2 separate regions of the Homo sapiens genome follow, and region 2 is linked to region 1. The links come from fine-mapping of genetic effects on gene expression. A gene starts in region 1. The other region holds a variant in brackets. All regions are shown on one strand. Distances are between the middles of the regions.

Evidence for each region. PIP is the estimated chance that this variant, and not a neighbour inherited with it, causes the effect.
Region 2: its variant is the best candidate, but not a certain one, in a credible set for the expression of ADAMTSL3 in skeletal muscle (GTEx, PIP 0.76).

The regions. Positions count from the first base shown.
Region 1 is chr15:83,652,812-83,655,596 of GRCh38, reverse strand. It overlaps ADAMTSL3 (ADAMTS like 3), which reads right to left and starts at 1,474. Exons shown (of 30, transcript NM_207517.3): 1 at 1,321-1,474.
Region 2 is chr15:83,764,298-83,767,082 of GRCh38, reverse strand. All of the region lies in intron 3 of ADAMTSL3 (ADAMTS like 3), which reads right to left. Among named protein-coding and RNA genes, the nearest start is that of ADAMTSL3, 110 kb to the right of the region's middle. The variant A/G (reference allele first, on the strand shown) is at 1,614.

The sequences.
Region 1 (2,785 bases):
GTTGCCGCTGCCTACTGCAGGGTGCAGGCTAACTGGGCTCCCTTTAGAAGGTCCACAACAAAGTCAGGCGAGGGCTGGACCTGTCTCCAGTGGGCATCTCATACCTCCAGCTCTTCAGAAGCTGAGATATCCCTGCCCAAGCCTATCTGTCAGCAGCAGGGTGTCGCTATTGGCATTTGACTCAGGAAGCCAGCACAGAGCCAAGGTTTAGGCTAGCTTCTGCTGCTCGCGGCAAAAATGAGTCTAAGACAACAAAGCCGCCCAGAGAGGGAAAGGACCTGCCTAAGGTCACACAGCAAGATAGTGACATTTTAGGGCTGAAACGCAGATCTTCTGATAGTTCAAGGCTTTCCTCGCTAGATGACACCGTGCGCCCTCGAGGTCCGGGACCCACACCCAGAGAGACGCCTGAGAGCTAAGTTCAGGGAGGTTTGGAGGACACAGCCCCTGAGCCAGCCTAACACAATCTCCTAAAAGTAGGTGAGGGCCAGCCAGCAGAGGTCAGCTGAAACCAGGAGGGAAGCGGGGACTTTTTCCCTTACTTTTCCTGTCAATTTACAGGGAAATCAGTATGAGTCGAGACTGGAAAAGCCGAGGTCACACTCGACTCCCGCTTCGCCTCGCGGGCGCCTTGGCGGAGCTGGTGTCCGGGGGCGGGTCGGTGGCTTCTCTCCATCTGGAGAAGGCATTAAGGGCCTGGTCTAATGTGATCCGCAAATGTGCTGCTGTTTCCGACCTGAGGCGGCGACTCCTGGCTGAAGGGAGGCGGCCAGTGCGGGGCCCTGGGACTCTGCGCCACCCTCGCCTGCTCGCACCAGCCTTCCGAGTGCACACTCCTCCGACTACCCGCTGCCTCGAAGTCGCTCCTCCAGTGCCTCCGCCGCGTCCCGGTCACCCCCACGCCCACTTTCCACGATCGCGCGTCGCCTCAACCCCCGGCGTTCTGGGCGCTCGCTACCCAGTGGTCAACCGGCCGGACCTTCGGACCCGCGAGGTTTCTGCTTAGTAACTCCCAATCCTGAAAAACTCCAACCCTGTGGAGTTCCCCCATAATCAAGAACGCCCCTCAGCCCGCGAACTGCCGCCGAAAGACTCTCCCTGAACCTTCCGGGACGGCACGAAGCGCGCCCGACCCGAGGTGCCCAGCAGTGAGGAGCACCCCAGTCCTGAGGCCCCCTGGGGCCCGCGTGGCACGCCCCGACTCTGCTTGGAGACCCCCAACTTGCTTAGAGAGGCCACTGCTCCAAGTCTTACTCCCTCTGGGGAGCGCCTTCCCCCGACCCCTGAGGGGCCGCCCTGCGCCGAGCTCGGTGCACCCACCTTGCGCCGCAGAAGTATCTGGGACGTGCAGCCCCGGGGCCGCGCGGGCTCGGCGCGCGCTGGGGAGAAGTTGGCAGAAGCCGCCCGTCAACACCTCGTGCGGAATCCGGCACCAGGACCTTCCCCGACGCCGGCCTCCAGCCCGCGGCGCCGCAGTCGCCGCCGCCGCCGCGAAGTTAAATGGGGCTGGGACGGGGGCTGCCCCGCCTCTCCCGCCCCCTCCGGGCGCGCAGAGCGCTGCGCTGGCCCCGGCCCAGAGGCGGAGGGCGCGCGCCGCCACCTGCACCGCCCGGCAAGTGCACGGCGCGCCCAGGCGCCCGTCAGCCTGCGCGCCGGCACCGCGCCCTCGGCTTGAGCTGGAGGCGCCGGGGGCGCGAAGAGACGCCGTGTGGGGCCAGGCCCGGGCCGCTCGGAGCGCGCGGGGCCGCGGCGACGGCGGGACTCGGCTGGAACGCTCCTCCGCCCGCTTCCTGGAAGCCACTCCTCGCCCTGGGCCGGCCGCCAGGCGTTGTGCCAAGAGCCGGGATTGCCGACGCCGCCACCGCCGCCGCCGGCAGGCGCACTGGGGAAAGGCGGCCGCTGCGCCGCAAGCCAGCCTGGCCGCCCCGCCTCAGCCGGAGCCGGAGCAGGGATGCCGTCGCTCCCCCCGAGCCCACCCCCGGCCCCACCTCCCATAGCCTCCACCCACCCCGCCCAGACCCGGGCGCCAGCTCTGCAAAGTCAGGCCCAGCAGCCACACAGAGGTTTGCCCGGAACCGCTGGCTCGTGCCTAAGAGCCATAGGCACTCCTGGCCAGGCAGGACCATAGTGGAGACCAATGGCCCTCTCCTGGCCTGCGCCTCCTCCGCGCAGCATAGACGCCACACAAGGGACTGTGGAGCGCTCACTGCCCAGAGGCCTGGGACCTTTGGCAGCCAGGGACCACGAGGATCTTGCAGGAGCGCCTCTTAACTGGGTACCTGGCGCCTCCTTGTCTGAGCCGGGCTTGGGGAACTGAGAGCTCCACAGGTGCCAGAATCATGCCGTGTCCAGGCCTGGGATTTGGGGTTGGGGGGAAGAGTGTCGCGGACAAGAGACTGGGGTGAGTTGCCTGTGTACTTCTGGAGGTGAGGAGAAGTAAAAGGAAATGTTTGTCCCTGTCCTTGTCCTAGTCCCAGCAGGATAAGCCAAGGGCCAGGAGATTGATCTTAAAGGCTGCATTATGCCCCCACCTAAGTCCTACCACAGTCGCCATTTCCTTGGGTGTCTGTCGAGTACCAAGCTCTTTGTGTCTATCTGATCTTCACAGCAGCAGTAGTTCGAGCATTATCCCATTTCACCTAGGATAAATCTGAGGCTGGGAGGATAACTTGCCCACCATGAGTGGAGAAGCCAGGACTGGAACCCCTATCTGCCTCTCTCTAGAGCCTGGACTGTTCACCCCTAAAGTTGTTCTCCTGCCTTCTCTGTGGTTGCTGCGTTCCGG
Region 2 (2,785 bases), 110 kb before region 1:
TTACTCTGTCACCCAGGCTGGAGTGCGGTGGCACAATCTTGGCTCACTGCAACCTCTGCCTCCCCGGTTCAAGCGATTCTCCCACCTCAGCCTCTCAAGTAGCTGGGATTACAGGCACTCGCCACCACGTCCGGCCTGTTTTTGTATTTTCGTAGAGACAGGGTTTCACCATGTTGGCCATGCTGGTCTTGAACTCCTGACCTCAGGTGATCCGCCCGCCTAGGCCTCCCAAAGTGCTGCGATTACAGGCATGAACCACTACGCCCAGCCATCATCTATAATTTCTAATGTCATACAATGAACGTGTATAATTTTACAATAAAACATCCAATAAAAGTTATTTTCTTCTTAAAGAAGGGGCCTAGGCAGAAGCGCTTTCTGTCTTACCCCAGACAAAGCCTGCATTTTCTTTATGGACATCTGTGTGTTTTCCCCACTGATGCTCCACTTCCTTTCACGACCAGGAATCCAGTCAAATACAGCAGCCCAGCTATCATCACTCACAGTTAGCATTTCGCCTCTTGGATCAAATACATCTGCTGCTGTGATCTGCTTGACCACAACATTCTTTCGATATCTCTATGAAGTCTTTTACTTTTTTCCCCCTCTATATTGCAAGTAGAGCTACACTTCTGCTTTTCAAAAGTATTTCATTTTATCTAGCTTCTTTCATGAGGAATTCGCATTTCTGACTGATGTTCATGAACTCACATGCATTCGTTCATTTTCTCACACAAACTATACCAAGAGCTTGCTAAGTTCAAGGCTCTGTGCTCAGTGCCCTGTGAATACAATGTGGATCTGGCCCTCAAGTAGCTCACAAATCAATGAGCATCAGGTGAGAGGGACAAGGGCTGTGGTGAGGCAATGGCAACCTTTGGTTGTCAAGAGCAACAGACACAAGGGGCCCAGGGGAAGGAGACCCTGAAACAGGAGCAATTTGTACCTTGGTTAGGAGAGCTGGGATAGACTTTCCACTGAACATACCAACCCTGCTGGAAGCTGGAAGCACCTCATGTATCCCTATCACCTTCTTCCGTATGATAGGTTACATGTGAGTCCTTATTTTGTGCTCACCTCTGTTTTCTAATTGTGATGGAATTACAAACACTTTTTACTTTCTTCTTTTATGATCATCTATAATTTCTAATGTTATATGACAAACATGTATAGTTTGCACAATAAAACACCCAATAAAAGTTCTTTTTTTTTAAAGGGAAAAGGAAAACACTAAAAGGAAAGCTATGAAAACACTTCCAAAGAAGCAGTATGCACTTTGTGTTGTTTGGTTCAAATTATCAGGCTTAAGGATCTCTTAGGAAATCATATTTTCCTAAGTAAAGCTCTAGCTAGGGAATATTTTGGATGAAAAATTCCAAAAAAGATATTGTTTACTCATTATATAATAGGGTTGGTAAAAGCCAAAAATATTGTAGGAATAAGTATGTTCACCATCTCATAAAGACTCAAGTACTGCTTGCCTTTCTTGGATCCCCAGGCATAAATCAAATCATAAAATATTTTCCTGACAAGTTCTTAAATCTGTGACTTATAATGAATAGTACAGTTCTACTAGTCTTGCTAAAACATTAGTAATTAAACACAGATTTCAC[A/G]TATAAGGTCACTTATTGGAAATGCTATATTAACAGCTCCATATTAAAAACAACCCAAAATAAAATGAGTTCCACTGGGATATTACTTCCCAGACATCAAATAAATGTTCATTCCAATGTTACCACAAAGGTTATTTAAGGGGATCTCAAACGACCCAGATTTAGTTAACAGTAAATACATTCTTTCAGGTTAATACTACCTTAAGGTCTTTAACAAAAGAAATTTTAAAATATGAATTGGGTGAACGGCATAAAAATGTCACTCAAGCTGTCACACAGACTCAACAATTCAGTCTGACCAGGATATATTCAACACCCATATATCTAAAGCTGTGTGCTAGGTACTGTTGAGAAATGCTCCGTACCTCTGTGTTTTACTTCTCTCTTCTTCAGTCCATTCTACCCTCTGCTGCTCCAAAACTCATTACCCTGACAGTTGATGGCCTCTAGGATTTGGTTGACACTTTCCTAGTCAATGTGCTCCTAATTATTTTACCACCTTTAAAGCCCTTCACTAATTCCTCAGGACACACATTCTGCTCCTCTAGGCTGTTTGTGCCCTATCCTACCCTTTGTTCAGCTTCATCTCTGGTGGCTCCTGCTAGCACCACATATCCCATATGCTGAGCACACAACATTTTTCATTATTTCAGACACTAACACACTTGCCATCCTGCTTGGGAAGCATTTTTAAAACACGCTATTTACCAAGGTAGTGGACAGGGTACAGGGAAACCATGAAGCCTGGTGCAGCACCCTGGGGCTGGTGCCAGCCAGATTCTGTGGATTTGACGATTCTCATTATCTGCCTTGGCCCTGCACGCTAGATGGGGCAAGGGCAGGCAGGGGCTGTGTATACAGGGCTGCCTGAGAGGAACTAAGGCCTTCGGTTGAGAATCAGAGCCCACAGCAACCCACAAAGAGAGAGCTGGGGAAGTAAACAAACACACTTCTGTCCTCCCTCTCTCCAGTCGCCCTGCAGTGCTCGTTATTTGCCAAACCCAACCAGAAGCCAGAGGGCAAGGGAGACCATTGATGCTGTCCATGCAGGTCAGCTTCCCATTGGGTGGAGCGCGGGGCAGGGAAGGGTGGAGAGTGGATCTGGAGGGCAAAGAGAAGCTTTCCAGCACAGTAATTTATTGACTCACTGGACTATTTTTAAGCAGAGGAGT